4 linked regions of the Homo sapiens genome follow. The protein of the gene in region 4 interacts with the protein of the main gene of each other region in a pairwise test. Each region holds a gene or a part of one and is shown on either strand. Other genes may lie near its edges.

Region 1 (6,388 bases), on a different chromosome or scaffold from region 4:
CACTGCACTACAGCCTGGGCAACAAAAGCAAAACTCCGTCTCAAAAATAAAAAAAATAAATAAATTTCTGGCCAGGCATGGTGGCTCACACCTGTAATCCCAGCACTTTGGGAGGCCGAGGCGGACGGATCACAGCATCAAGAGATTGAGACCATCCTGGCCAACATGGTGAAACTCCGTCTCTACTAAAAATACAAAAACTAGCTGGGCATGGTGGCACAGGCCTGTAGTCCCAGCTGCTAAGGAGGCTGAGGCAGGAGAATCGCTTGAACCCACGAGGCAGAGGTTGCAGTGAGCTGAGATCGCACCACTGCACTCCAGCCTGGCAACAGAGTGAGATGCTGTCTCAAAAACAAATAAAATAAATTTCTTCACCAAACCTGAATTCTCTACATAGCTAAACTTAGTAATCCAATGCAAAATAGAACTTTACAGACAGGAAGGTCTCTAACCTATTGGAAGATATCCTACACCAAACCAACAAAGCCATAGATCTAGGAAACAGATCATAAATTGAGAGGCAAAGGGAAACCCAGAACAATGGCAAAGCCCCAACTCAACAGTTACTCAACAATTCAAAAAGGGCAAACAGTTCAGATTAGAACACAGAAAACCATCAAGAAAAACATGAAACTAATTACCAAATTAATGTATATAAAAAATCTTTTTTCAATTCTTGTTACCGTTTGAAAATCAGTGTCTGCTGGACAGAAAATTATCTAGGCCAAGAGGTACTGCTAGAAACGGCTCTGAGAATTGCAATTTAAATGAGTCAGACATACAGAAACAAAACAGTACAAAAATCGGGTTACAAGTTTTTTTCAAGAATGGGTTTGATCTCCAAAATTAATCCTTAAAATTAAATCTAAGTAGTGTCTCTCATTTAGTACTAATTAACTGCCAAAAGTGCAGCTTGTAAACATTTTAACACAACAATCAAAATTAATCTGGTAGCATGTTTTTAGTCACACTAAACCTGGTTTTAATTCAATCTGTTTTTACCCCCTCCCCGCACATTTATAAAGTTTTTGATGTGAAGGCCGAACACGGTGGTTTATGCCTATAATCCCAGCACTTTGGGAGGCCGAAGGAGGAGGAGGATTGCTTGAGGCCAAGAGTTCAAGACCAGCCTGGGGAACATAGCAAGACCCTGTCTCTACAAACAATAAAAATATTAGTTGGGCACAGTGGTATGCGCCTGTAGTCCCAATCACTGAGGAGGCTAATGAGGAGCACTTGAGCCCAGGAGTTGGAGGCTGCAGTGAGCCACTGTACTCTAGCATGAACGACAGAGGGAGACCCTGTCTCTTAAAAATAATTTTTTATTGAGAGATTTACATAAAATAAGCATATGATACCAAAAAGAACCCTAGCTTAACAACCCTAACACAAAAAATTTTCATTTATTTTGACCATGAGTCAGCAAACTTTTCTGTAAAGGGCCAGACTGTAAATTATTTTGCTTTGCAGGTCTCTGTCCTAACTACTAAACTCTACCACTGTAACACAAAAGCAGCCATATACAAAACATAAACAAATGAGCATAGCTGGGTTGCAATCTTATAAAAACAGGACACAGGTCCTCAATTTGGATCTATCATAAAAAAACTTTAATAACACTAACTTTTGCTCATTAAAATGTTTGCTTAGTTGGAGGTCAAATTCTTAGCATCAGATGTAACTCCACAAAAGTAAGAAAGGTATTCCATCACTTCACTACTATAGAACTGTATAATAATACATTTCTCATTTGTTACCTTTCTAATGAACTATTCTGAGCAGTCTGAAGTAACTGACTGCACAGCCTTAGATTACCACTCAGGGTGGAACTCTTAACATTCACTTAAGTAATACCTACAAACGATTTTCCATTCAAGTTGATGGGTATCAATTCCCTGAATGCTAATAACAGAACTCAAGAAGCTTCCAACAAATGACAGGAAAAACAATTCTGACTTAATCCTATAGTTATCACTTAGACTCTTCAGTTTCACTTTCTTAAGAGTGACTCAAAAAGTTCCTTAGGCACACATACTAATAATCACAGTCCTGAAATTTTAAGGCCCTAACCAAAAAAATAAAACCTTTGAGAAATGGAAAATAAAATCATTCAAACAAATAAGCACACACACATAAACACGGTATATATTTCTTTAATCCTCCCTCAACACTTGAATTCATCTATGAAGTCCACCACAGCTCTAAAAATCTCTCTGAACTAGCCGCATTTCTATTATAATTAACAGATTTTAAGTCCTTTTTATTTAATGGAAGCATAAAACATTAACTATCTGTGCAAAGGGGTACTTTTGCACATTTATCCAGATTTGTTCTAAAAAGCACAATACATATTAAGCAAAAACTGGGCATTTGGGAAAATATTCATATAAATCTTAATGGCTACATAAGGAAGTATTATTAAAACAACCAACAAACAAATTGACATTAAGTCATTCCCAATTTGGACAGGGAGGACACATTATGGCAAAAATTAGATTTTGCTAAAAACATTTCAAACTTCACTGCAATTTTAATCATGTCCTCAATTTCGGCAAGCCTGTCTTCCAAACTTATGCTTTTAATAACTTGAATCCATGACAATTTTTCCTATTCTGATGATAAAAGAGCCAATACATTTTTATACAAAAGGATTTATTAAAAAACCAGTAAGACACTACTACATCATGACACTGTCACACTGGGCTTTTAACACAAGACTTGCTCTACAATACTGGGGGAAAGGGCATAAAACACAAATTGATTCTGAAGCATAGCAATTAAGAAATAAAACAATGAAAGCAAATTTCTTTTAATGAGAACTCAGAATTAAACTTCAGAGGGACCCAACGTCATACTTCCATTCAGGGACTTGATACAAAAAATTTAGTTTGAACTGCTATTAGCAGGTGGCAGGAGCCACCTTCAAATGAATCTTCAAATTGGAAAATACTGCTTCACCACCTGGAGACAAAGAAGAAAAAATAGAAGTCACTCTGGGCAGGCTACAACACTTAACAAAAATTTACATAAAACTGAGTTATCCCTATGTTCCACTATATGTAAATACTGTATAACATTAAATGTGTGATATGTTTTATAAATTAAAGCTGAACAGTAGAGTCCATGAGCTGTAAATCCACATGTGCACCACTGGTTTAAGATGTGATATGCTTTTACAAGTATTCTTTAAAATATAAAAAGCTTTAAAGTATTTACCCAAAGAACTCATAAAAAGGTCAATTTGGTAAAAGGACATTTTGACCCAAGAGCATCTAATATTTAAGCTTATTTTATTGGATAAGCATATCTCTTGTCCATCACAAGTTATAGAAAAGTTATATACGACTAAAAGAAAAAGTTATCTACTGTAATTATAGGAAGTTGTCACAACAGGAATTCAGCTCAAGAACTTCTTGCAATTACTGCTACAACGTCTATAAATGGGAAAAGCAAGCATTAAAATAGATTAATAAAATATAAAATTAAGACTGGAAAATCCAGAGACAAGCTGTATCCTTAGAAGAATAAATAGTTAAAATTATTCAGTAAGCTGACGTATTTAACCATTACTGGGCCTGTAAAAAATGCATTAAAATTACATTACAAATAGTTTTTAAAAAGCAAAGAAATAAGTGAAGGCAAAGCTTGAAGTATCCATTTTATTTTATAATGCTGATACAGGATGTTGGAAGAGACCATACCAAACGGCAGCATTCGAGAGCGTGAGCATCTCGTACCCTGTCCGCATTGAGCGGGCCTGTGAGAATCGTGAAGTCAGCGCGACACAGGGCCTGCAATGAAGTTCCCGCTGGCGGGTACAAACAAGGTATAATGTCAGAGTTAGTAGGCAATACTTTTTTGCTGCAATTCCTTAATTTGTACCCATTAGCAGTACTTTACCTGTTAACTTTACTGACTTGTTAATAATAGGACAAAAAGGCAAAAGCTTAAGAGCACCTGTGTTACATATCTTTGAAAGTCACTATGTTATAATATGGTAAGCACTTCTGGGTGCTGTGAAACTCTTAAATTAAGCATTGTTTTATGAACAATATAGATTATAAAAACTACTATTGTAAATGACAAAAAAAAACTATTTTTAGAACATACCTGTTGGGGATAAGTTGCAAATGGAATAATTTAGTATGGTTTGTAGCTATTTTGATGACCACCTCGCCTGGATACCTTCCCATAACCACTCTGCTGGTCTAAAATAAAACAAGTGTTAGAACCAGAACGGTAGTGGTTACATACTAATAATCAGAACAGTACCTAATTTTAAACAATCTCAAAAAATTAAGGGTAGCTTAATTCCCAAGTGTGAAAAATTCACCCTGAGCAATCATTTATCAAATAATTTACCAAATATGTAGTGAATGCATACAATGGCAGGCATTCAGAATGAGCTGATTACTTGACTTATTGTATAAAATGGGAGACAATCCCCTCACCCTTACAGTTTAAAAGTTTTAAGTTTCAAAGGATGGACAGCTGACCCTTTCACAACCACCAGCAAAAAATATCTTAAAATTTAGAACAAATTGTCAACCACAATCAGTGCTTAGTATCTCTGCCCTTCTAAGAAAAGGGCCCCAATCTCACCCAATCCATCTTTGCTGACCTTCTTCTGACTTTAATTAACCTATTATTGTGCAGCAGGCCTAGTCACCTAAGAAAGGATATAACTCCAAGAACTGGTCTAACCAAGGAAGGAAAAGAAAAACCACTTAAAACAATGCAACCAATGCAACCACTCTCCTCCAAAAAAATGTAAGATTGCTTCTAGTAGAACCCTTTACCTGACGACTCAACAGTTGCTACAAATCAGGTGGAGAGCAACTACCTTAGTTGCACAATGAAGTCAGGGCTTTCCATGTCTAAAAGTCAAGTTTTTTGGTTCTATCAAGCTCAACATCTGTTTTAAGAGTTTCTACATTAATAATCCTAAAGCGAGGATACTATTAGTTTTAACTGGCAACATGTGGTATTATTCAGTTTTATAGGATTAAGACACATCATGCCAAGATTATTGGTTGGTCCAAGAAGTGACATTTAGAATACCTTGAGCTTAAAAGATCTGAACTGAGCTTAAAATTTTTAAATCCAAGTAAAACAAATGCCCAGCAAACATATATAGAACCACACATACACCCTACCCTTATAATGTGTGTGTGATATAGGCTGGGAGGAACCAAGCAATAAAATGGCTGCAGTTTCAAGTTTCCAGGAATTTGAAACCTGAAGACATTTGCACTTGGCAAGGCTACACTAACCTTTCTGCCTATCCAAATTTGTACAAAATAAATGTCAAATAGCAGTTAATATAAAAAGTATAGTACTTACTGCTATAATCACCATATCCATAGTAGTTGTTGTAACCAGTGTAGTCATATCCTCCATAACCACCGTAACCTTGGCTGTTATATCCATAGTTGCCATAGCCTTGATTCCAATAGTTACTATATCCCTGGTTCCAGTTTTGACTGGGGCCTGCAGCACATTAATAGGTTCACTAAAGTCAGAAGATCAGCAAAGATCTTTACTTCAGGATAATTAAAAAGCAGAAAAGCTTAAGATAGAGTAAACTTAGGCTCTAGCTTACCACCACCTCTTCCACGAGCTCTTCCTGCAAATCCTCCTCTAGATCCCCACTGTTGCTGTTGCTGATATTGTTCCTTCGACATGGCTACTTTTATTTCACACTAAAAGAGAAAAATTACATTATTAAACTGACTCAAGAAAATAAAAGTTGCTAAATAAGTTTCTAATAACCAGAATAGCCAACATGTTTAAATAGAGTAGGCTAATTTGAAACTTTCCTCAGTCAGTTTATTAATTAAACCAATATTTAGTACTTAAGAGTAATCACTTATGAGTACTTGCTAGTGATGTTACTTCATTTTACTTGTCAAGTTCTAAAAACTATTTTTGTGAAAGCCTAGACAAAAACACTAACAAATGTGTCCATCCTGCTCCCCACAAAAAGTTGGTCAATGGTAAGTAACCAATGAGAAGTTTTTAAAGCATGCAAAGAACTTAAGCCTTTACAGAGAAAGATAAATGGTTAAGCTCTTTACAACAGCTAGTTTTCTCTACAAGTAAATGGATGCTTAACTTACTTTACTAAGACCAACATTGTGGTATTTCTTTTCCATTATCTTCTTCACTGGTTCTTCTTCCTTAAAGGTAATAAAGCAGAACCCACGCCTCTTATTGGTCTTGTTGTCCATGGGGAGCTCTATGGATTCCACCTGGTATTAAAAAACAAATTTTAATATGCTAACATGCATTTTATTGACCTTAAAAGAAACACAAGTTTAGAGGGGGGAAAACACACAAAGAAAACATGTATTTGGCACTGAAGTTCTAGTCTCCTGTTTCTCCCTAT
Region 2 (7,000 bases), on a different chromosome or scaffold from region 4:
CACCCGGGTTCAAGTGATTCTCCTGCCTCAGCCTCCTGAGTAGCTGGGATTACAGGCATGCGCCATTATCCTCGGCTAATTTTGTATTTTTAGTACAGACAGGTTTTCTCCATGTTGGTCAGGCTGGTCTCAAACTCCCGACCTCAGGTGATCCGTCCACCTCAGCCTCCCAAAGTGCTGAGATTACAGGCATGAGCCACGGGGCCCAGCCGAAAGATTACTATAAATAGTAGGTTCAGCATGCACTGAGGATGAGATAAAGCATGGTGTACTGGGCACTGCTGGAGTAAATGGTGTTGGTAGCAATGAGGTAGAAATTAAGCTGTAAGGTTAGCAGAGGCCAGGACATGAAGGATCTTATCCTCCTATGAAAGGGTTGAGACTTTATCCCACAAGTTTTGTGGAGTTGCTTAAGGAGATAACAACATGGCTAGACATGCAATAAGTTGAAGATAAATCCGATTAGTTCACTAGGCCAATGGAAACCTGGAAACCTGAGATCTTTTAGGGGCTTCGCCAAGTCAAAATTATTTTCATAATAATGTTGCCCTTTCCACACTCATTCCCTCAAGGGTACAGTGGAGTTTCCTAGACATATATGACGTGATAAAATCATTGCTCTGATGACTAATGGAACATGATATTGTGTTTTAGAGTTCCAGTTTTAATTTCTAATACAGTAAGTATCAATAGATATAACCCATGTAAACAAAAGCTTTTGGGGGTCCCTAACATTTGCTAAAGGGATTGTGAAACCAAAATGTTTGAGAATCCTTGTGATAGTCTATGGCATAAACAAAGAGAAGGCCTCAGAAGAAAGAACACCAGGTTTGGGAGGCAAATTTTTTCATTTTTAATTTGAATTCAAGATTCTGAATAAGTCCAGTGCTAGAATAGCATTGCTAAGAAAAAAAAAGATTCTGAAAAAGTTACTTTAAATAAGCTATTTAGGTAGAGATGTCAGGGAAGCAGCTGGATCAAGTCTGGCATTGTGAGAACGGTTCAGGCTGGAGATAGAGGTACAGTAGTTGTCAGTGGCAGAGTGGCATCTGAGGATCACGGATGAGATTACCCAGGGAAGATGAGAGAGTGAAGAGATGCAGCATCCCCACAGAACAGGAAGAACCCACACCACACTGTTTTCCTGCCCACATAAAGCCCCATCAAGGTTACAACAGAGACCCCAGCCTTACCAGCTTTCCTTTGAGAAAAACCATTCCCTTCACTTTGGAATCAATCTCCTCGCCCAGCTGCTCTTTAAGTTCTTTCCAAGCATAACTAATATTTGGCATTTCAATTGAGCACTGCAAGATCATGGTCACAAAACCCTTACAACACAAGAAAGGAGAATAAAATTAAAGTGCTGAAAATAAACCTAATTGATAAATACCTGCTTTTGTGATTCTAAAATATTTCTTGAAAAGTTATTCCTAAAAACATACATCTCACACAAACAATTAGTACGAACAGTCCCTCGTTTTACTTGGGGAACTCTGAGTAAGACTGGTTGATTGTACCAATGTCAATATCTTGGTTGTGGTATTATAGTTTTCCAAAATATTGCCATTTAGGGAAGCTGAGCAGAGTATACAAAGGATCTCTCTGTATTATTTCTTACAGCTACATGTAAATCTACAATTATCTCAATAAAAATTTGAATTTACAGGAAAAGAAAAGCATACACCTTCTAAAGTTTCTAGGTATGCTGGCTAAATGTATTATATGCATTTATGCGCATATATATGTTTGGGCTACTTTAGGATTAAAACAATTAAAAATCACATACCACAAAATTCACCATTTGAAAGTATATAATCCAGTGTTTTTTTTGTTTGTTTTAGTATATTTGTAAGATCTGCAACCATTCAGCACTATCTAAAATTTCAGAACATGGCATAATCCACCCAAAAGAATCCTGCATCCATTACTAGCCACTGCCATTCCTCCCTCCACACAGCCAGTCAGGACCACTCATATTTTCTGCCTCTATGGATTTGCATGTATGTGTGTGTGTGTTTAAACATGGGAATTATTGGTTCTTTTCTTTTCTGAGACAGAGTCTCACTCTGTCACCCAGGCTGGAGTGCAGTGGCACCATCATGGATCTCTGCAGCCTCAACCTCCTGAGCTCAGGTAATCCTCCCTCCTCCCATCCCAGCCTCCCAGGTAGCTGGGACCACAGCATGTCACCACGCCCAGCTAATTTTTTTTTTTTTTATTTTTTTGTAGAGACAGAGTATCACTAGGTTGCCCAGGCTGATCTCAAACTTGTAGGCTCAAGCCATCCTCCTGCCTGTGCCTCCCAAAGGGCTGGGATTACAGGCATGAGCCACTGTGTCTGGCCAGAAATTGTAAAATACAATTAATACTTTACTAACTTCATGAGAAAATGAAAACAACTGGGAAGCTTAAATGAAACCCTTTCATATCCTGCTCATACCCCAAATTATGAAGTGTCAGGAATGTGCTGCAGAACCTTACCACATTTGAGTTGATCAAGGAGCGCTGGTCTACGGACGTGGCACCTGAAATATGGGCCAGTGCTGCTGCCAGAGCTTCCACAGCTCCCTTCTCCTCTATCAGCTTCTCAGCTGATTGTTTGAAGTGACTAATGGCAGTGGGAGGCACGGAATCCAAAAGCCTGTTGTTTGAGAGTGTGTTAGGAGAAAGGATACTAGAAGTGGACACATTTCATTTCTAAGACATCTCAAGATAAATGAGTAACTTTCCAAATCTTTCACATGTGTAACATATTTATTTTTGATGCAGTATATAATAATCATATTTCTATAGTAATAAATCCATTCCTTTGACTGTATGTAATTCTAATTTATCACCTACCCCACCATTTTATCCTAAGGAAATAATAAAACAAGAAGTTCACCACGGTGTTACTTATAATACACAAAAAGTACAAACAATTTTAAAATGTGCATCATTTGGGCTGCTTATATAAGCCACAAAACAGACATAATAAAATGTCATACTACCATTAGATGTGATGATGAATTATGTCAAGAGTTTTTATACAAGAAGCATGTGTTACTTTTAGGATCAGAAAAAACCTATTTCCATTCTGAAGTTTAAAAAAAAAAGCTGGGTGTGGTGGCACATGCCTGTAGTCCCAGCTACTTGGGAGGCTGAGGTGGGAGGATTGCAGTGAGCTATGACTGTGCCACACACAATCATTTTAAGAAACTCCGTCTCTTTAAAAAAAAAAGAAAATAAAAGAAATAAGAAAAAGACCTCCAAAGTCAGTTTAAAAAATGATAAGGACCTTTATGGGACTATTTGTACATTCTTAAGGGGGTCACTATTATCTTGGCAATAATAAATGTCCCATTCAAAGTTGAAAAAGATCATCCAGTAAAAAGGGGAGAAAGTGACATGCAGCCGTGTCAGGGCTGGCACGCTGGAGGCTGTTTGTTGTATACCACCAGCATCTTTGTCCCATTCCCCTTCTTGGCCATCTAACCCCAACTCTCCTTAACTGGCACCCAAGGGAACCCTGTCTGTAGGACACTTAAAAAAACATGCCATGCTAAAATAAATTTGAAAAATGCAGTTAAAATACACTCTTCCAGGCTGGGTGTGGTGGCTCACGCCTATAATCCCAGCACTTTGGGAGGCCAAGGCGGGCGGATCATGAGGTCAGGAGATTGAGACCATCCTGGCTAACACGGTGAAACCCCGTCTCTACTAAAAATACAAAAAATTAGCTGGGCGTGGTGGCAGGTGCCTGTAGTCCCAGCTACTCGGAAGGCTGAGGCAGGAGAATGGCGTGAACCAGGGAGGCAGAGCTTGCAGTGAGATGAGATTGCACCACTCCACTCCAGCCTGGGCAACAGAGCAAGACTCTGTCTCAAAAAAAAAAAAAATACACTCATCCTTCCTTTCCTCCCTTCCCTGTCTTCTTTCTTCCTTCCTTCCCTCTTTCTTTTTTTTGAGATAGTCTCACTCTGCCACCCAGGGTGGAGTACATTAGCACAACCACAGCTCACTGCAGCCTCAACCTCCTGGGCTCATGCAATCCTCCCATCTCAGCCTCCAGAGTAGCTGGGACTACAGGCACTTGCTACCACATCTAATTTTTGTATTTTTGTATTTTTTTTTTTTTTTTGAGACAGAGTTTTGCTCTTGTTGTCCTAGCTGGGGTGCAATGGTGTGATCTCGGCCCACTGCAACCTCCACCTCTCGGGTTCAAGTGATTCTCCTGCCTCAGCCTCCCAAGTACCTGGGATTATAGGCGTGCGCAACCACGCCTGGCTATTTTTTTGTATTTTTAGTAGAAATGGGTTTTTTCCATGTTAGCCAGCTGGTCTTGAACTCCTGACCTCAGGTAATCCACCCGCCTTGGCCTCCCAAAGTGCTGGGATTACAGGTGTGAGCCACCGCACCCGGCCTAATTTTTGTATTTTTTATAGAGATGGAGTTTCACCGTGTTGCCCAGGCAATCCGCCTACCCCAGCCTCCCAAAGTGCTGGGATTACAGGCATGAGCCACCATGCCTGGCCCAAAACTCTTTCATTAACAAAACTTTCCTGAACTATTAATATGCTGATTGACATCCAGGATTTCCTTTGATCATGGACTCCCTGTGTCTGTTTTTTAAATAAGCATTTACAGTAATTGTGAAAACTACTATAAAAATGATGCCCAAACTCAGTGGTTCTTTAACAGAGAACATAGGTCACCATCAGGAGGCATCTGGAAAATGGTTTCTGGTTTTTATAATGCCAACCCTACTTACCCTGAGTATGTGGCACAGGGGAATCAGCCACGGATCCTAAGCAGCTAAATATCCTTCCATTTGCAGGACAATCCCATAAAAAATAATTCTCTTGCCTCCAATGCCAGCAGCACCTCCATTTGACAAACTGTTAATTAACCTAATCCTCACCATCTAGACATTTACTATTAACGAAGCAATCAACTTTCATCCTACCAGGGAAGGAACTGGATTAATGTAGATTTGGAATGTAATCTGTGGTCTAATCAGCCAGTGGGTGAGAAGCACCTATACTATACCTAAGATATTATCCCTTAAAATATCCTAGACAAAGCAAACTATTTTAATAGTGGTTTCCTCTGGTAAACAGGATAGGACAGGAATGAGTAGAAACGAGGGTATCCACTTTGTGAAATTCTACTTCAGCACGGTCTGGTTTTTTTTTGATAAACAGGTTATCAGTTAAAAAGAATAGGCTGTGCATGCTGGCTCACACCTGTAATCTTAGCACTTTGGGAGGCTGAGCTGGGAGGACTGCTTGAGACCAGGAGTTGAGACCAGCCTGGGCAACATAGTGAGACCCTGTCTCAAAAATTTTAAAAAAAAAATTTTTTTAAGTCAAATCTTATTACTGTACAAAGACATGCAGTATTTGAACCAACACTAAAACAGACCATAGCAGTGGTAGGGAACATACCTGATGGCATCTTTGCTGGAAGCTTTTATTATTTCTGTTGCAGAAGGAACACCTATTCGTTTGAACTTAATTCCCTACAGGAAAATGAACCACAGTTTAATGTACAGTGGCCATCAATTGTTTCCAATAAGATAAGCAGTCCCCTAATTTTTTAATATAGGCCAAATGTATGTATTACATTAAAAAATGAACTTTTAATTTTAGACTTACAGAAAAGCTACAAAGACAGTACAGAGAGCTCCAGGTTTCTGCTATTATTAACATCTTACACTGTTAATGTATATTTGTTTCAACTAAGAAACCAACATGGCTAAACTATTAATCAAACCCCAGACTTTATTCCATGTCTGTCTTTCCTTCTTTCCTTGTTTTTCATGACTTTGACAGTTTTAAGGAGTGCTGGTCAACAGTTTTGTAGAATGTCCCTCAGTTTGAGGTTGTCTTGTGTTTTCCTCATGCTCAGGGTTACATATTTGGGGGAGGAATACCCGAAGTGAATGCTCGCCTTACCACCTCTTATCAGGGGCACATGGCTATGTGCCTATCACTAATGATGTGACCCACGATCAACTGGCCCAGGTAGTGTTTGTTCATCTCTCCTCGGTAAAGTCCTCACTCCCCACCTTACTCTATTCTTTGAAAGCAAGTCCCTAAGTGCAGTCCACTCAAGAGGAAGGAGACGAGTGAAGCTCCTGAAGGGGCAAGAATCTACATACACTATTCCAATTCTCCTGGAGGAAAAATTAGTCTCTTCTCCCCTTTATCCTTTTGACATACCCTCATTCATTTGATTTTCAAGCAATTCCTACAGCCCCTCAATCTTAATTATCTCTGGTTCATATTTATCATTGTCTGAAAACTTCCTTTCAAACATATGAAAACAAAATCACTGTTTTCAAATGCAAAGTTACTTCAGAATGGGCCTTTTATCACAGGACAACATATGTACCTAACAATAAGCTTTCAGTCATTGCCACACACTAGAAATAAAAATATTTTAAAGTGGATAAAAATTGAAGAAACCAAAGACTGACTTTAGAACTCAACATTTGCTTAATGAAAGGTAAGAATAGTTTTACCGCTTTTTGCTCCACTTGTACTAACTGATATTCTTCCTTGTGCTGATAAAAGCAGATGCACACCCCCGTCCTTCCAGCTCTGCCTGTCCGCCCGGATCGATGAATGTAGGACTCTACATCCTATTGAAGTAAAATACATGAGTAACACTAAACCAAAAAAGAGAGACAAACACCTGAGTAGCCTATGCAGGTCAGTGAACACTAGCAATTGTGGTTATAAACCTGGGGACATGAGGGAGAAGGTCCCTTAGCACTTCAATTTAAAGACCTCTGGCAATTTTTAAAGCTTCTAGAACAATGGTCCCTGTCCTGCAGGCAAATTTACAAAGAGCATTGTCTAAATAGTGCTTGTCCATTAGAGGCATATATGTAATTCCAATTTTCAGTCTTCCAGTAGACAGACTGAAAAGATTTCTTTAAGAAGCTTAATGTATTTTAACTCAATATATCTAGTCTTTTTTTTTTCTTTTGAGACAGAGTCTCACTCTGTCACTC
Region 3 (8,248 bases), on a different chromosome or scaffold from region 4:
ATATTTAATGCCCTGCTGTTTAATCTTTCTCTCAGTGAAAGAATATATCAAAGTCAGTGGGGATCACATACCTTGGTAATAAAGAGCCTTAAGGAAGGAGTGACGATCAGCTCCCTGAAATAAAGACTTTTCTATTTCCATTTCTCGCCGGGTCAGCTGTTTGCTCTTTGCAAATCTCTGTGGCAGGCAAAGAATGCGCTGACGCTCCGAGATCCTTTCTTCAATATCTTGAAGACGGTTCTGTATTGCTTCAGGAGTTGCCCTCAGTTTTGTCTTCTGAAACCAGAGGAATGAGATGGCATGTATCATAGAGGGCACAACCTGAACATGATGATCTGGTATCTCAAGTAAAAAGATGACCTAGGCCCAGAAATGAATGTTTACAGAAAGTGTTAGCTAAGAAGTTAAAGAACAGCTTCTCTTTTACCAATGTCTGCATTCTAAAAATCAAAGAAGATTCAGACACCAAGCTCAGTTTTGTGAGAACTAGAAATGAAAAGGCTCTCAGTGCTAAAATGAAGATATTTTGCTCTGTTTCTTTGAGGAGAAAAACCAACAAAAAAAAACATTACCCCACTCACCTTTTCACCAGAAACATGGCTCTTCCAGATCAAGATTTCTGTTTCATTAAGCCCTAATTCCCTGAGAGAAGCAGTTTCCTGGTCCTTCTCATGCAGTGTCTGGAATTGGGACAAAGTCATAGTCCCAGCTGCTTCCTTCCCAAAGGGCTTGTACATAGTACCAGGAGCAAAGCTCTCTTTCTTAGACATACATCTGCAAAACATGCAGGAGGAGAGTAAGAACATCTTGAGGTTACTATCATTCACAAAAATGGAGGTTCAGCACTGTAAGAGGTACAATGAAACTCACCAGCAAATTTTCTCTTACATCTTATTTCTAAGCTGAAGCACCACTGCAACAAAATGGAACTCCATCGAGAGTGCCGTCATCCAGGAATAATAAACTAAATCAACAAATATTTATTGAGTACTTACTATGCATCAGATACTCTGCTAGGTACTAAGGATTTAATAGCTTTATAAAAAAGATAAAAATGGCTCCTGCTTTTGTGGAAAAACAGTGGAACAGAGGCAAGTAAACAGGCAATGATAATATTGGGTTACAAGTGCTATGTTAAGGGAAATATGGGATGCTGTAGGAGGACATAAAATAGGTACTTGGCTCAGACTTAGTGAGATATGGGAGGCTTCCCAGAGGAAGAGACACAGAATTAAAACCCTACCTAATACATTGAAGTCTAACAAAGAAAGGGAGGTGGGAGAGGAACATTCCATCTAGGCTTTAAGAGAGATCTGTCACCTGGAGGTAAGAGTCTATGATACTCTCCGTTTGCAAAATCAATACCTACTCCTCAATGGAGACAGAAGTATCAAGTTGATGCTGAAGGAGGCTTTTCAGCTGCCTCTCCCCTTCTGTTTCCAGCTCCTCCAGGACATGCTCATCACTCTTCACACAGCTGTTTACCCTGGAGTAGACATAAGAATATATACAGAAAACGGAAGAGACTGTGAGTCTCAAAATATATTCCTTATCTATATTATCTACCATTACTGACCCCATTTATTCAAAGACACTTCTCCAACAATTCATTGCCCTTTACCATTTAGTCCATGAACACTTACTAAATACCTGTTTACACAGAAGGCACTATGCTAGGTACTGAGGGAAGTCAAAGGTGTTTAAGACATAGTCCCTATCCTCAAGAAGCCCACAATCTATTTAGGGAGAAGAAGTGTGTGTTTATGTGTTGTGTGCATGTGCCTTGGCAGCGGGGGGAGGAGAGAATAATAACACATAGAAGCATATGCCAAATTAGTAGAAATTCACAGAAGAGAAAATTGGGAGATAAAGGTGGTAAAGGAAGACTTCAGAAAGGTACTTTTAAGCTGACATTCAAAGGTGTGTGATGCAGAAAAGGAGAACAGGGAAAGAGAGTACAAAGGGATAGTAATATATACTGAAGGATAATAAGAAGTAGTAATTTATCAAACAGTTAAGTGACACAGTGCAAGTGATGGTTTAGACAGATGAATGTGGTTATAATATGCCATAGAGATTCAAAGGGAAGAAACAAGAAGAACTAGTTATGAAACTACTGAAGTAAAAGGTGATGAAGGTCTAGACTGAAATGGTAATAGTGAAAATGGAAAGAAAGGGTTAGATGAGAGAGGCCTTTTGGAGGCAGAGGCAAGGAAGTCAAAGATAATCCCAAAATTTCAGTCTGTGTAACTGAGAGAACAATGGTACCAATGAAGGAAAGACAAAGCTCCAGATGGAATAAATGATTTGGGAAAGGGAAAGTCAGTATTGTTTTAGCCACATTGAGTCTAGTAGCTTTTACAATAGAAACGCCAGCATGAAGTATCAGGAATACTTCAAATACATGACTAGGAACATTTTGTTTAGGGATAAATTCATATGTACTAGAAACTATTTGCTTTTTTAAAAGCAAGGGAATTAATAACACAAAATTCCGGATAGTGGTCACCTCAGGGGGGAACGAAGGGAGGGAAGAGACACAGTAGACTTCTAAGGGACTGGCAATGTCCTATTTCTTAAGCTTGTAGTGGATGCGAACCTTTATTATTCTTTAAGCTGTATATATACATTATACATTATTTCGCATGGAGGAGATATCATAAAAAAATATTAAAGGTTAGTTTCAGGCAGGCAAAGTCATAAACGGTTTTTTAAAAGATGCAAGGAACTGACAGTGCAGGAAAGCATATCAGTAAGAATTTTAAATGCACTGCACTATTCCAGAGTGATGATTCTACTTGCAGAGTGAATCTAAAATTAATTTAAGCCCGTCAATAGTTAGGAGGCTCAGGCCATTTAGGCTCAAGCGGCCATTTACCTCAGGACAAGTAAGGGGAACTGAGCCCAGCAATGCCTTCCACCTCCCCTCCCCCCACCCCATAAATCGAACCGCTTTGGTGCTGTCCTTCCACATTTAGAAACAAAGTACCGCTCCCTTACTTTAAGATTCGAAAGCGCTACATGGTTTCGGGGCCCAAGCAAGTAGTCTTTAACACACAGACGTTGCAAATAAATGCGCCCGCCCCGAGCCTTTCTCAGGTGGAGGTGGAGGTAGGGGAGAACGGCGAGGGGCTGGCCCGAGGTACCTACATCTCCGGCGCCGGGAATTTGTCAGCCTCAAACCCTTTTGCCCAGCTGGGTCCGGGTGAAACGACGAAGCCGCAGCACCCGGCCAGCTCCCGGGGCCCGTGCCGGGAGGGCATTCCCACAGCAGCCGGCCCCGGTGGCAGCCCTTCCTGAACTTCGCTCTGCAGGCCTGTTCAGCCCGTCTCCCCTCCTCCCGTCTCCTTTGTCGTGTTCCCGCTCCCACGAAACCGCATCCTGAGAACGTGCAATACCCAAACCAGAAAGCAATGGAAGCCATTTTCAAAAGAAAAGGTAGAACAAAGCTCCCCTTGCCGCCTGCTCTTCAGACAAGTCCTTACCTCTTCATGTTTCCACAGGCCCCTACCTCCAACTTGGGTAAATAGGCCGCGGACCTCAAGTCCCAGAACTCCGCGCGGCGGACTTCTAAGGGTATTGTGATGGAGCATGGGGCTCTGGGAATTGTAGTAGCACAGAGCTATGGCAACAGAAAGAGAAAGTAGATCTCAAGTGACAGGTATGCTGAACATTGTCCAAATATTTATTTTGAATTTCTCATTTAGGTTCAAAAGAAGACCCAAAATATCCAGCTCATAAAACGAGTCACCTTTGACTTCTTGATTCTCTCATCCATTACCACTAATTCCTGGCTCTTCTGTAATTTCCTTTGAACTTATCAACACTGCTTTTCTTTCAAGGATTTATCCAGCCTACCTACCGTTTCCAGTCGAGCCTCTGCTTCATCCTTCACGATGTAGCCAGAGTCATCAGACACGAGTCTGACTATATCACCTGTACTAATGGTTCTCCTCTATCTGTAACAGAGACTTGAGAGTTTTCTCCACTCAGAATCAGAAGTCTGTGTATGTTCAGGCCCACATATGTTTTATTGATAATTATGGTGAATCAAGAAAGAGGTATAGTATAGTGGTTAAAAGCATAGGCTCTTAGTTTCCAGAAATGGAAATGCAAATGTCTTTAAGTGTATGAAAAGATGTCCAATCTCACAAATTTTAAAGTACACTGACTACCAGTACTCCTTAAAACTAGCAAGGTCATCAAAAACACAAGAATCTGTCACAGCCAAAAGGAACCAAAGGAGTCATGATGACTAAAGTAATGCAGTATCTTGGATGGGATCCTGGAAAAGAAAAAAAGACATGAGGTAAAAACTAAGGAAATGTGAACAAACTATGCTCTTTAGCTAATAACAAGGTTCGTTAGCTGTGACAAATGTATCAGAGTTATGCAAGGGAAACTGAGTTGTACGTATGTGGAACTTTGTACTATGCAACCTTTCTGTATCTAAAACTGTTCTAGAACTTAAAGTTTATTTTTAAAAGTACATTAAACTACCATTTTTCACCTAACAGATTGGGAAAGATCCAAAAGTTTGATAACACACTTGTTTTATTGAGATTGTGGGGAAACGGGCGCTCTCAATACACTAGTGGTAGGAATATAAATTGGTACAACATCTATTGGGGGCAAATGAGGATACTACTAAAATCATAAATGTACATTCCCTTTAAAGCAGCAATTCAGTTATGAATAGAATCCTCAATACTATATATCCTCTAACCTACTATCATTCCTTGCAACATTGTTTATGAAAACAGAAATGAAAATATCCAAGAACATACTATGAAAATGTATCATTCAATGAAAAACTATGCAGCAGTTACCAAGATGACAAAGTTCTCTATGAACTGCTACTAAACAATCTCCAAAATATAGTTAGTGCAATAGCAAGGTGCAGAACGATATGTATACTATGCTTCTATTTGCATAAAAAGGGGAGCTCTAGTCACTTAAAAACATATATATGTGTGTTTGCTTGTATATGCACAAAATATGTTTGGGAGAACTTACAGACAAATGATGAGTGAATGCCTCCAGGTAGGGGAACTGGATGGCTGAGGGACAAGGGCAGAAAAAATTCTTCACGTATCTTTTTGTGCCCTTTGAATTTTGAACCCATGACTACATTACCTAGTCAATACTTTTTTAATTAAAGAGAAACCCTCTTACATCTCAAGAAGCCAAAGAAGAAAAGATTGTAGGTAATGGTGGGGGGCGGGGCACACTACTTGGATTTGAATCTCACTTCTCAGTTGACAGTATAGCACGACAGGGTTTTAGAGGCAATCTGGACTTGAATTTTTGCTCTGGTAAGTTACTAGACCATGTGGGTTTCAGTAAGTTTCTTAACTGGTCTAGGCCAGTTTTCTCATCTGTAAAATGAGGATACCTCCTAAGTATAGGGTGACTGTCAAGCACATACAAAGGTATGGTTTTAAAGTTATTCCATGATTGAGTGGTAATCTATGAGTAAATAGTCAAATGTTAATCAGTAGATTTAGACTTATCCAAACTGCTTTGTATTTCCATGCTCAAGTTAGAGCAAAGGACCAAAAAGCAGCTACTGAAAAACATTGTAGAATTTCCTGTCCTGAGAACTTCTATCAGATTGAAAATGTCATGGTGAGCTACCTAAGACCTGTCACATGCAAATAACTGTGCTCTTGAATCATAAAGGTGAATGACTGCAGGCATAGCATGTACCACTTTGTAGCTTTGGCACAGAACGTGAACTGAATATAAGTATAAACAAAACGGGGGGTCACATCATTGCCTGCACCAGGTAAATCCTATATGGTGGTAGAGCTGAATTTTGTGGCTCAACCAATCTGTCCCAATTGACATATTGACAAGGAAATGGAAAAATACACCAAGGTTGCTAGTGTGCTTATCCCCTGGGACGGTGGCAAAGGATGGAACAAATATTACACCAACCATCACACCAAACTTGTGTACAACTTCTAATAAAACATATAGCCTATTGATACTGAAATGATACACACTACATTGCAAATCCACTAGGTGGGATGAGTGGAGAACGAATAGCTAAGATACATATTCACATAGCTGTGGAATTGCAACTGGAAAGCAAGGTCATAAGAAGTACTCTACATACCTGTGTATAACTGTAACCAGCGCAAGTGATAGGTACAAACAGACAAACATTCAGAAAATTACACTAAAAAGAAAACCAGGCCATTTCTAATTCTGCCAAACTTGTTAACTGTGTAATAATAGTTATTCTGTTTCCCACAACATTCTTCTCCCCAGCTTAAAAGGACATCAGACAGTGTATACAAAGCCTTGGAGATCTCTAGATGTTATACATGGGCACAGAGATCTTACCTAATTTCACAATTTTACCCCTAGAAGAATTTATGACAAACCGAAAAATATGCCTCATTTGTCTTTCTGTCAATTTAACAAGGTTAGTTTAATTAATCCAGAAGCTCCTTCTTAACAGAGACACATTTTCTGAGTTTGTCCTTTTTAGGTGCTTTGTTTGTGGCACGCTTCTGAAGACTACATTATGAAGCAGTTATGATTCCAAGATATGGAAGAAGATGTTAAAACCAAAAATCTTCTCTTGAATCTACTCACCATCTTATATTAAGAGTAAACAACTGTGCAAGTCTTTCAAATTTCCCAAATGAAATAGCATAAATGCTGTTATAGAGAACAAATATAGCATCTTTTCAAAGGATTAAAAAATGGGTATGTACTGGGATAGTGTCAACACTTTAAATTTAAGAATTCTTCAGCTAATATGTCAGCTGGTTAACAATGGTTACGAGGGGCTGAAGACTCCAGTGCCTAACATAAATGATGCTTTAACATTACTGGTAAAAATAGCTTATTTCTGTATTTCTGACCTTTTAATTAAGATTTGTCAACGTGACTGGGCACGGTGGATCACGCCTGTGATCCTGGCACTTTGGGAGGCCAAGGCGGGTGGGTCCTTTGAGCCCAGGAGTTCAAGACCAGCCTGGGTAACATGGCAAAACCCCATCTCTACAAAAAACTCAAAAATTAGCTAGGTGTGGTGGTGTGCACCTGTAGTCCCAACTACTTGGGAGGCTGAGGTAGGAGAATCACTTCAGCCCAGCAGGCAGGGGTTGCAGTGAGCCAAGATCACGGCACTGCACTCTAGCTTAGGTGACAGAGCAAGACCCTGTCTCAAAAAACAAACAAAAAAAAATTGTTCAACAATGTCATTTCTTTACATGTTAGAAATGGTCAGGAAGAATCTTAGAGATGATTTATGATTTAGTCCAATGTACAATTCCAGACAGTATACTGAGATCACCCTGTAAGTCTTAATAACATTACTAGATCAATCTAGAAGCCAGTTGCTATCCTCTGGCATCTTCTATGTACTAGGAAAAACACTAGAACTCCCACTGAAGATAATGTAACAGTAAGATAGTATAAGCAGTATTGTAGTCTCCTTTTTCTTTATTTTACTTAGGAAATATAGAGTAAGCACTCTACTCACAGTGAAAAGACATAAAGGAATCTCAAAACTTCAGAGAAATGAAAACCAGTTCCTTCTCACAAAACAGTTTGGGAAACCCTAATATGATCCAACTCTTTCATTTATGGACAAAGATAATGCCCAAGATGAAATTATTTGTCCAGTTAATTAGGCAGGAACAAGACTAGAGTCAGTGTTTCTTCTGATAAACTATATTTTCATTACTGAATGTAGAACTTGTACACAGGCTACTTTACAAGAGTTGAATCTCCAAAAGCAATGGGAAAAAATGTCTTTAGTATTACTCTTATCTACAGTATAAGAGTAATAATACTGAACTGAAAAATTAGAGATTACTAAAGATTATACTTAAAAGTTGTGTATCTACAGAAATAATTCACAAGATTATATGAGTTCTGGATTATTTTCACATTCTATAATTCTGCGTGGTTACAAAAACTTACTGGATAAGAAGCTGCTGCTTGGAAAAGTTTGAGTAGAAAAAAAAGAGTCCATGTCAATTTTGGCATTTAGTCTGCTCATAAGACTAATCGTTGCTAATATTCATTTCAAAAATATTTCTTCGTGTAATGTGTACCCGCCACGATGGTCGTGTGCAATCAGTACAACAGAAAATTTAGCTCAATAAATTATAGGTTACTGAGCTCTAGTCACTTAAAAACTTTTAATAGTTAATTTCAGTATTACATGTTTTTTTTTAGGACATTACCTTTATTTATGACTTAGGTGAAACATGAAACACAGGAG
Region 4 (8,279 bases):
GTGTGAGGCTCTCAAAGAAAAAAAGTATCCTTACCTAAAGCTCAGAGATAGTTTTAGAAAAAAAGTATCTCTAGGTTATTCTTTGTCAAAACCTGCCTGAGGTTTGGATCCCTTCTTCTAAAGGGGCACCTCTCAGAATGAGTGATGCATGAGCATCATCACCTGGAACTTACTAGAAGTGCAAACTCTCAGGGCCCACCCCAGACTTACTTAATTAGAAACCCTTGTGGTAGAGATCATAGCAATCTGTTTTAACTAGCCCTATTGATTCTGGTGTTGGCTAACGTTTGAGAACCACTGTGAAGATTTTAAATTGGGAATCTCTCTATTCCCCAGTTTAGAATCAATTATTATCATTTTTTTGAGATGGGGTCTCACTCTGTCGCCCAGGCTGGAGTGCAGTGGTGCGATGGCTCACTGCAACCTCCACCTCCCAGGTTCAAGCGATTCTCCTGCCTCAGCCTCCCGAGTAGCTGGGACTACAGGCGAGCGCCAGCACGCCAAGCTAATTTTATTTTCAGTAGAGATGGGGGTTTCACCATGTTGGCCAGGCTGGTCTCAAACTCCTGACCTCGTGATCCACCCGCCTCAGCCTCCCAAAGTGCTGGGATTACAGGCATGAGCAGCCACACCCGGCCTTAGAATCAATTCTTTAAACAAAATGCCTGACCTTCCAGTGTACTGTGACAGAATCAAGTTAGAGCACCAAATAATGTTTTCCTGATACAATATAAATAAATCCAAAAACACATAACCTATGATAGTAAATGTACCAAAGAAACCTTTTTTCCTTTTATGTTAATAAACTCAAAATTTCCAATATCGAGAATACCTGTAGTTATGCTACACCTCAAAGTTCTGGTTCTCACCAATCCTCTAGTAAATCTAGTATGCACAAAACCAAAACCTTCCCATTTCCAATGAGAATACATGAATATGCATATTAAGAGCAAATAATGCTCCCCAGAGACAACTACTAATAAAGTACTTGAAGACTGAAATAATGTGGTTAAGAATAGTAATAATAACTACCAATTTAGAAAACCGGGGCCGGGTGCGGTGGCTCACGCCTGTAATACCAGCACCTTGGGAGGCCAAGGCAGGAGGACTCCCTGAGCTCAGGAGTTCGAGACCAGCCTGGCCAACACGGTGAAACCCCGTCTCTACTAAAAATATAAAAATTAGCCCGGTGCGGTGGCACACGCCTGTAATCCCAGCTACTCGGGAAGCCGAGGCAGGAGAATCGCTTGAACCCGGGAGGCGGAGGTTGCAGTGAACCGAGATTGTGCCACGACATGCACTCCAGCCTAGGGCGACAGAGCGAGACTCCGTCTCAAAAAAAAAAAAAAAAAAAAAAAAAAAAAAAACAAAACTGCTTTTAATAAAACTCAATCTGTACAGTTTTTAGGCTTCTGGCAACAAAAAATTTGAATTAGAAACTAAAAATTCAAATAGGTTTTAAAAAAAAGTCTAAGTCCCCTTATTTGCCTAAGGAGGATTAAAATCTATTTCTCCTAACTCCTAGGCAAACTTACTCCCCAGCCAACACCTCTCACATTCAACACTTTATTAAGATTTAATAATTTGCCCCTTAGTCTTTAAAATTAGAGCAACTAGCTATTTTGGAGTTTATTCTTTGCTTGTTTCGCACAGCCATTCCATCCAAAACAAGGTCGAATGCCATGTCAAATCCTCTAGAGATTTAATTACAAACGTAAGCTGTTTAAATTCTCTACAGAAGGAACATCAACCACCAAGTATTCCCGAGAGTGGCACTAGCATGAGGGGGAAAAAAAAGGTCAGAAAACCTGCAACCTGGCCATCCTTCTTCAACTTTTCCCCCTAGCCAATATGAAAATGTTACTAAACGCCTATCTAGTTGAGAACACACCTAGAATTGTGATATAAATACCGTGGCAAACAGTTTCGGATATTAACTCAAAGAATTTTTGGTGCGCTGATATACATACTGACCGGAAGGAACCCATTTTCGAAAACCTCAAAGAAAAGTGCCCGTCAATCAATTTCAACTACTATTAACAGTTCTTAAATACTAATTTCTGACATTTCTCCTTGCCAACATTTTTACTTCATGATTTCCCATTTTTACCCTAACCTCATTTCTAACAGTTCAGCACAATGATAAACTTTAGTTTTAAGTTCCTGTAATAATATACATGTTTAAGCCTTAAGAAAGGGGTCGCGATGTTTTTGACCCTTATTTTACTTCCTATCAAATAGATTGCCTTACAGATGAATTTCTTACCCTGCAGAATGGGTTTAAACTGTGCTTAACAGCTTTAGTTTTTGTGAGATTAACAGATTGTGAAAAATAAACTTAGCCAAATCTCATGTGAGGATTAAAAAAAGCGATGTCCCAGATAAGTCAATGTGACACTAAAGATCTAAACAATTTTTTTTAACTTTTAAGTTTTTTATCAAATTTCAGCACCCAGCAAATAATAGGCACTGTTAATATTTGCTTAATATAACGTAGCTGTGAATTTTTGCCCACATTTAGGCGGACGGGAAAATTAACGCCAGAATATCCCGAAAGTCAAATTTTGTCATCTTACACTTAGGAAGTTACGTTAAAAAATTCTCAAGTCTCGTAGTATTTTTCTTAAGCGCAATTTGGGAATTTCCAGTTACCTCGTGGTTTCCGTCATCAGGTTCTTGGCAAAGATTGCAATACAGTAGTTTTAGAACTATATTAACTAGGTATTCCATTAACTAGGTAAAAACCACTCGACTGACCTCGTGGTCAAATTCCTTACTAGTGCTGCTACTGACTTAATATGACCCTAGCAACCAACACTTTTCTGCCTCAGTTTCCGTCTGAGAAAGAGAGTTAATACCTACCTCAAGCAAAGTTCCACTAACTTATATATTTCAAGTGTTTTGTAACCTGCAGATGAAAAGTCAGCTGTAAATATTAATATAGTTATATCACAATATTTCCTTTTACAAATGTAAGTGAAAATAACTACTTCGAGCTCCATCATTTGCTCATAGAGAGAAATAAAATAAAAAGTTATCAGTAAAATGCTGAATCTTTTGTTAAACCTTTCTCGTAGGCCACGCGGCACGATCCAGGATTTAAAGGCTCGCGATACATCTACTTGGTAACCTTCCCCCTTCCCCTCCCCCACTTTTTACATGTAAGAAGAACGGAGGTAATAGAAGGCATCGGCGCTACGTTAACTTCGACTATATTAATGAGCATCACGATCTTCATTTTCATGATCCCGTAGTCCTCGCGGTCGTAGAAAATGAAAGGAAAGCAGCCGTTAACACAGGAAGAGCGAAAAAAGGACATTTTCCCTGGCGATCGTGGCCTAGAGGACACCAGGTTAAACCTATACAGAGGCTGAGGCCTATAAAACTGCCCCCGGCTTCAACCTAATCCCCCAAAACAAGCAGAATAAATGAGGGCCCGGTTAGTTAGGGGGAAGGATTCCCACATCTTCTCTCCCACACCCCCTCTCGCTTCCCGAAAAACCCAGCGCCTTCCCTGCGTCCGCCCTCTCCACTTACCAAGAAGGGGAGGGAGAAGAGATTCGATTCTGAGTCTCCTACTCCCGGGTTCTGCGTAGAGAAGCCGACTGCTGCTGGAGGTCGGCAACGCGGCCACAACCGCTCAGTCTTCGTCTCTTCACAAAATGGCCCCCGAGTCTCCTCTGCCGCCGAGGCGAAGGCCTAGTCCCCGCCCCATTCCTGAGAATCTTCCTATTGGCTGTGCGTTTTTTCGCTCCCGCTCCTAATTAGACAGTTCAACCGCTCCTCACAATGATATCCAATCACAATTAGCAGTGGGTTAGACTAAGCAGGCGAATTTCCACATGCGTGAGAGAAACTAGTTTATAACTGGTTAGTTTTCCTGTCATTTATTGCCTGGAGAATGCTTATTGGCTATTGCACGGGACGACCCTCTGGGTGGAAACTCGCCTTTGTATCGCGCACCGTCTCACATCCGGGTATCTGGGAGGCCTGATTGGCGGCCGCGGCGTCCTATCGCTGCCCCTTAGAGTGCCTAGTAGAAGATCCGCCCAGACCTCGGATTTCCGGCTGCGCGGGGGCGGGGAAAGGGTTGAGGGGCGTAGTTAGGTGACGGGCGCAAAAGACCTGCCCCAGCCCCGGGCCTAGGGAAAAAAAAGCGCGAAATGAAGCCTCCGTTGTGCAATGTGAATAAAGAAAGGACTTTTCTTAAAATGAGGAGGGAGCAGCAGTGACTAGGCCTTGTTAAAGTGTGTAGAAAACTAACCAGTCCTGCAGTTTTTCCAACCCCAGACCCTTTCTCAGTTCCAGATTCGAATGTCAGCTACCTCGTAGACATCTGCTTCTTGGCCTATTAAACCCTTCTTCAGACAACACATGTTCCATCGAAACCAACTGACTTCCTTATTCCTCTCCAATATAAAAAGGAAGTGCAGAATCCTGGCCTCTGGCCCCAGGGCATCTAATATCTTAAGTGCCAGCAAAATTGGCCCATCCTTCCAAATCTGGTCCCTTAATTTCCCTCCTCTTGAAATGGCTTGTCTCCTACCTACCCCCGTCACCTGCCAGTCTCTCTGGTTACATTATAGGAACTGCGCACGCAGTGGGGTAGCATCAGCTCTACTAAGCCAGCGGTTTCTTTTTTCTTTTCTTTTTTTTTTTTTTTTTTTTTTTTTTTTGAGGCAGAGTCACTGTCGCCCAGGCTGGAGTGCAGTGGCGCGATCTTGGCTCACTGCAACCTCCGCCTCCCGGGTTCAAGCGATTTTCCTGCCTCAGCCTCCTGAGTAGCTGGAACTACAGGTGCGCGCCACCATGTCCAGCTAATTTTTGTATTTTTAGTACAGATGGGGTTTCGCCATGTTGGCCAGACTGTTCAGGTGATCCGCCCGCCTCTGCCTCCCAAAGTGATAAGATTATAGGCGTGAGCCACCACGCCAGACCACTTTAAACTATTTTAAAAAGCAAAGACGAAAAATATGGGAGAAAGTATACACTAAAGTGTTAGTAGTGGTTCTCTCCTGGTGGGAAAATTACATGTGATTTTTTTTTTTAACTTTTTTTTTTTCAAACGGAGTCTCGCTTTGTCACCAGCCTGGAGTGTAGTGGCGCCATCTTGGCTCACTGCAACCTCCGCCTCCTAGGTTCAAGCGATTCTCCTGCCTCAGCCTCCCGAGTAGCTGGAACTACAGGTGCGTGCCACCACGCCCAGCTAATTTTTGTATTTTTAGTAGAGACGGGGTTTCACCATGTTGGCCAGGATGGTCTCCATCTCTTGACCTCGTGATCCGCCCGCCTCAGCCTTCCTAAGTGCTGGGATTACAGGCGTGACCCACCGCGCCCAGCCTTAAAATCTTATTGTACTTTTCTATATTTTCCAAATCATCTACTTTGAGCAAGTAATCAGAGGGAGAATATCCTACGAGTGCTTAAAGCCTCGACTCAATTGCCACATTGCAATTTATTTAAAATTATCTCGTAGCACTGTGGGTAGTTTTACACTCCTCTCCCTTCCTGGATGGTAAGATTTTTTGATGGCAGAGTTTAATTCTTACTCTTCAATATATTTTCCTTGTTTACTACCTATTAATAAATTAATAAAATATTAACCATTAACTTTTATTTATCAGGGGAAATTTTTATTTTTCCAGGACAAGCAGATAGACTGTCCTTTTTTTCTCTCTCTTTCTTTTGAGATGAGGTCTTGTTCTGTTGCCCAGGCTGTAGTGCATTGGCATAATCCCGGATGATTACAGCTTCAACCACCCAGTCGCAAGCAATCCTCCCACCTCAGCCTCTGGAGTAGCTGAGACCACAGGTGTGCACCACCACATTGGCTAATTTTATTTTTATATTTTGTAGAGACAGCGTCTTACCATGTTGCCCAGGCTAGTTTTGAACTCCTGGGCTCAAGCATTCCTCCCTCCTTGGCCTCCCAAAATGCTGGGAGGCACCATGCCAGCCCTGTCTTTTCTTTCTTTTCTTCTTTTTTTTTTGAGACAGAGTATTGTTCTGTCGCCCAGGCTGGAATGGAGCGGCGCAATCTCGGCTCTCACTGAAAGCTCCGCCTCGCCGGGTTCAGGTCATTCTCCTACCTCACTCAGCCTCCCGAGGAGCTGGGACTACAGGCGCCCGCCACCGCGCCCGGCTAAATTTTTTTTGTATTTTTAGTAGAGACGGGGTTTCACCGTGTTAGCCAGGATGGTCTCGATCTCCTGACCTCGTGATCCTCCTGCCTCAGCCTCCCAAAGTGCTGGGATTACAGGCGTGAGCCACTGCGCCAGGCCCTGTCTTTTGTTTGTTGTATGTTTTATGTAGCACTTACTCAGAGAGGCCTGGAGTCTGTCGGGTCTGGTTGACATGTAATTTATGTTATTATTATTACTATTATTTGAGACAGGATCTCACTCTGTCGCCCAGTCTGGAGTGCAGTAGCACCATCAAGGCTCACTGCAACCTCGATCTCCTGGGCTCAAGAGATCCTCCCACCTCAGCCTCCTGAGTAGCTGGGACTACAGGCGTGTGCCACCAGACTCACTAAGTTTTCTAATTTTTGTGGAGATGGGGTTTCACCGTCTTGCCCAGGCTGGTCTCAAATTCCTGTGCTCAAGCAATCCACCGGCCTGGGCCTCCCAAAGTGCTGGGATTACAGGCTGACCCACGTCTGGCCTCTTGACTTAAGTAAACAAAACTGTCTCAAAAATAAAATAAAATAAAATAAAATTTTATAGAGCTCTCTCGTTTTAGCTAACACTGCTTTATACTTTTTTTTTTTTTTTTGAGATGGAATTTCGCTCTTGTTGGCCAGGGTGGAGTGCAACGGGGCGATCTCGGCTCACTGCAGCCTCTGCCTCCCAGGTTCAAACGATTCTCATGCCTCAGCCTCCTGAGTAGCTGGGACTACAGGCATCCGCCACCATGCCTGGCTAATTTTTGTATTTTTAGTAAAGATGTAGTTTTGCCACGTTGGCCAGGATGGTCTTGAACTCCTGTGCTCAAGCAGTCTGCCCGACACACCTCCCAAAGTGCTGGGATTACAGGCCTGAACCACCGCACCCGGTTAATATCTTTTTTTTTTTTTCCTGAGACCGAATCTTGCTCTGTCACCCAGGCTGACGTGCAGTGGCGTGATCTTGGCTCACTGCAACCTCCGCCTCCCACGTTCAAGCGATTCTTCTGCCTCAGCCTCCCGAGTAGCTGGGATTACAGTCGCCCACGACCACGCCGGGCTAATTTTTGTATTTTTAGTAGAGACGGGGTTTTACCATGTTGGCCAGGCTGGTCTTGAACTCCTGACCTTAGGTGATCCACCCACCTCGGCCTTCCAAAGTGCTGGGATTACAGGCTTGAGCCACCAAGCCCGTCCCCAATATCATTTTTAAAAACCAATCCCCTCTTCAAGACATTGAAGTTGTTTCCAGTTTTTCAGTATCATATATCAATTATTTTATTATTTTATTTATTTATTTTTGGGGGGTGGGGGTGGGGATGGAGTTTCACTCTTTCCCCCAGGCTGGAGTGAAGTGGCACGATCACAGCTCATTGCAATCTCTGGAGCGGTGGCTTACGCCTATAGTCCCAGCACTCTGGGAGGCGAGGTGGGTGGATCACCTGAGGTCAGGAGTTCGAGACCAGCCTGGCCAACATGGTGAAACCCTATCTCTGCTAAAAATACAAAAAATTAGCTGGGCGTGGTGGCAGGCGCCTGTAACCCCAGCTACTTGGGAGGCTGAGGCAGGAGAATCACTTGAACCCAGTGGGGTGGAAGTTGCAGTGAGCTGAGATTGCGCCATTGCACTCCAGCCTGGGCGACAGATTGAGACTCCATCTCCAAAAAATAAATAAATAATATGAACAAACAGGCAAAAAAAATCTTTGATCACAGTCCAAGTGTGGCGGGCCATGCCTGTAATCCCAGCACTTTGGGAGGCCGAGTTGGGCGGATCACCTGAGGTCGGGGAGTTCGAGACCAGCCTGGCCAACATGATGAAACCCTGTCTTTTCTTAAAATACAAAAATTAGCCAGACGTGACGCGCACTTGTAATCCCAGCTATTCGGAAGGCTGAGGCAGGAGATTCATTTGAACCTGGGAGGTGGAGGTTGCAGTGAGCCAAGATCATGCCACTGCACTCTAGACTAAGGGACAGAGCAAGACTCCGTCTCGAAAATTAAAAAAAAAAAAAAATCCTTGTCCACAAAGCTTTAGAACTGGGAGAGATAGCTGGGCGCGGTGGCTCACACCCATAATCCCAACACTTTGGGAGGCCAAGGCAGGAAGATCACG

Evidence for each region.
Region 1: the proteins of HNRNPC (region 4) and HNRNPD interact in binary tests that used the Homo sapiens proteins (3 or more experiments, as listed by UniProt).
Region 2: the proteins of HNRNPC (region 4) and DDX21 interact in binary tests that used the Homo sapiens proteins (3 or more experiments, as listed by UniProt).
Region 3: the proteins of HNRNPC (region 4) and RBM41 interact in binary tests that used the Homo sapiens proteins (3 or more experiments, as listed by UniProt).

The regions. Positions count from the first base shown.
Region 1 is NC_000004.12:82,351,194-82,357,581, forward strand, and holds the end of HNRNPD (heterogeneous nuclear ribonucleoprotein D0), read right to left. Parts: intron 6,252-6,388; coding exon 6,120-6,251; intron 5,703-6,119; coding exon 5,603-5,702; intron 5,491-5,602; coding exon 5,344-5,490; intron 4,209-5,343; coding exon 4,141-4,208; 3' UTR 4,111-4,140; intron 2,962-4,110; 3' UTR 1,305-2,961; downstream 1-1,304. UniProt on the Homo sapiens protein: Binds with high affinity to RNA molecules that contain AU-rich elements (AREs) found within the 3'-UTR of many proto-oncogenes and cytokine mRNAs.
Region 2 is NC_000010.11:68,973,170-68,980,169, reverse strand, and holds part of DDX21 (nucleolar RNA helicase 2), read right to left. Parts: intron 6,626-7,000; coding exon 6,506-6,625; intron 5,501-6,505; coding exon 5,427-5,500; intron 2,642-5,426; coding exon 2,482-2,641; intron 1,329-2,481; coding exon 1,194-1,328; intron 1-1,193.
Region 3 is NC_000023.11:107,115,281-107,123,528, forward strand, and holds the start of RBM41 (RNA-binding protein 41), read right to left. Parts: upstream 3,543-8,248; 5' UTR 3,494-3,542; coding exon 3,486-3,493; intron 3,306-3,485; exon of another isoform or gene 3,264-3,305; coding exon of another isoform or gene 3,151-3,263; intron 1,487-3,150; coding exon 1,370-1,486; intron 965-1,369; exon of another isoform or gene 871-964; intron 775-870; coding exon 582-774; intron 277-581; coding exon 72-276; intron 1-71. UniProt on the Homo sapiens protein: May bind RNA.
Region 4 is NC_000014.9:21,265,761-21,274,039, forward strand, and holds the start of HNRNPC (heterogeneous nuclear ribonucleoproteins C1/C2), read right to left. Parts: upstream 3,683-8,279; 5' UTR 3,538-3,682; intron 2,909-3,537; exon of another isoform or gene 633-2,908; intron 1-632. UniProt on the Homo sapiens protein: Binds pre-mRNA and nucleates the assembly of 40S hnRNP particles. Interacts with poly-U tracts in the 3'-UTR or 5'-UTR of mRNA and modulates the stability and the level of translation of bound mRNA molecules. Single HNRNPC tetramers bind 230-240 nucleotides.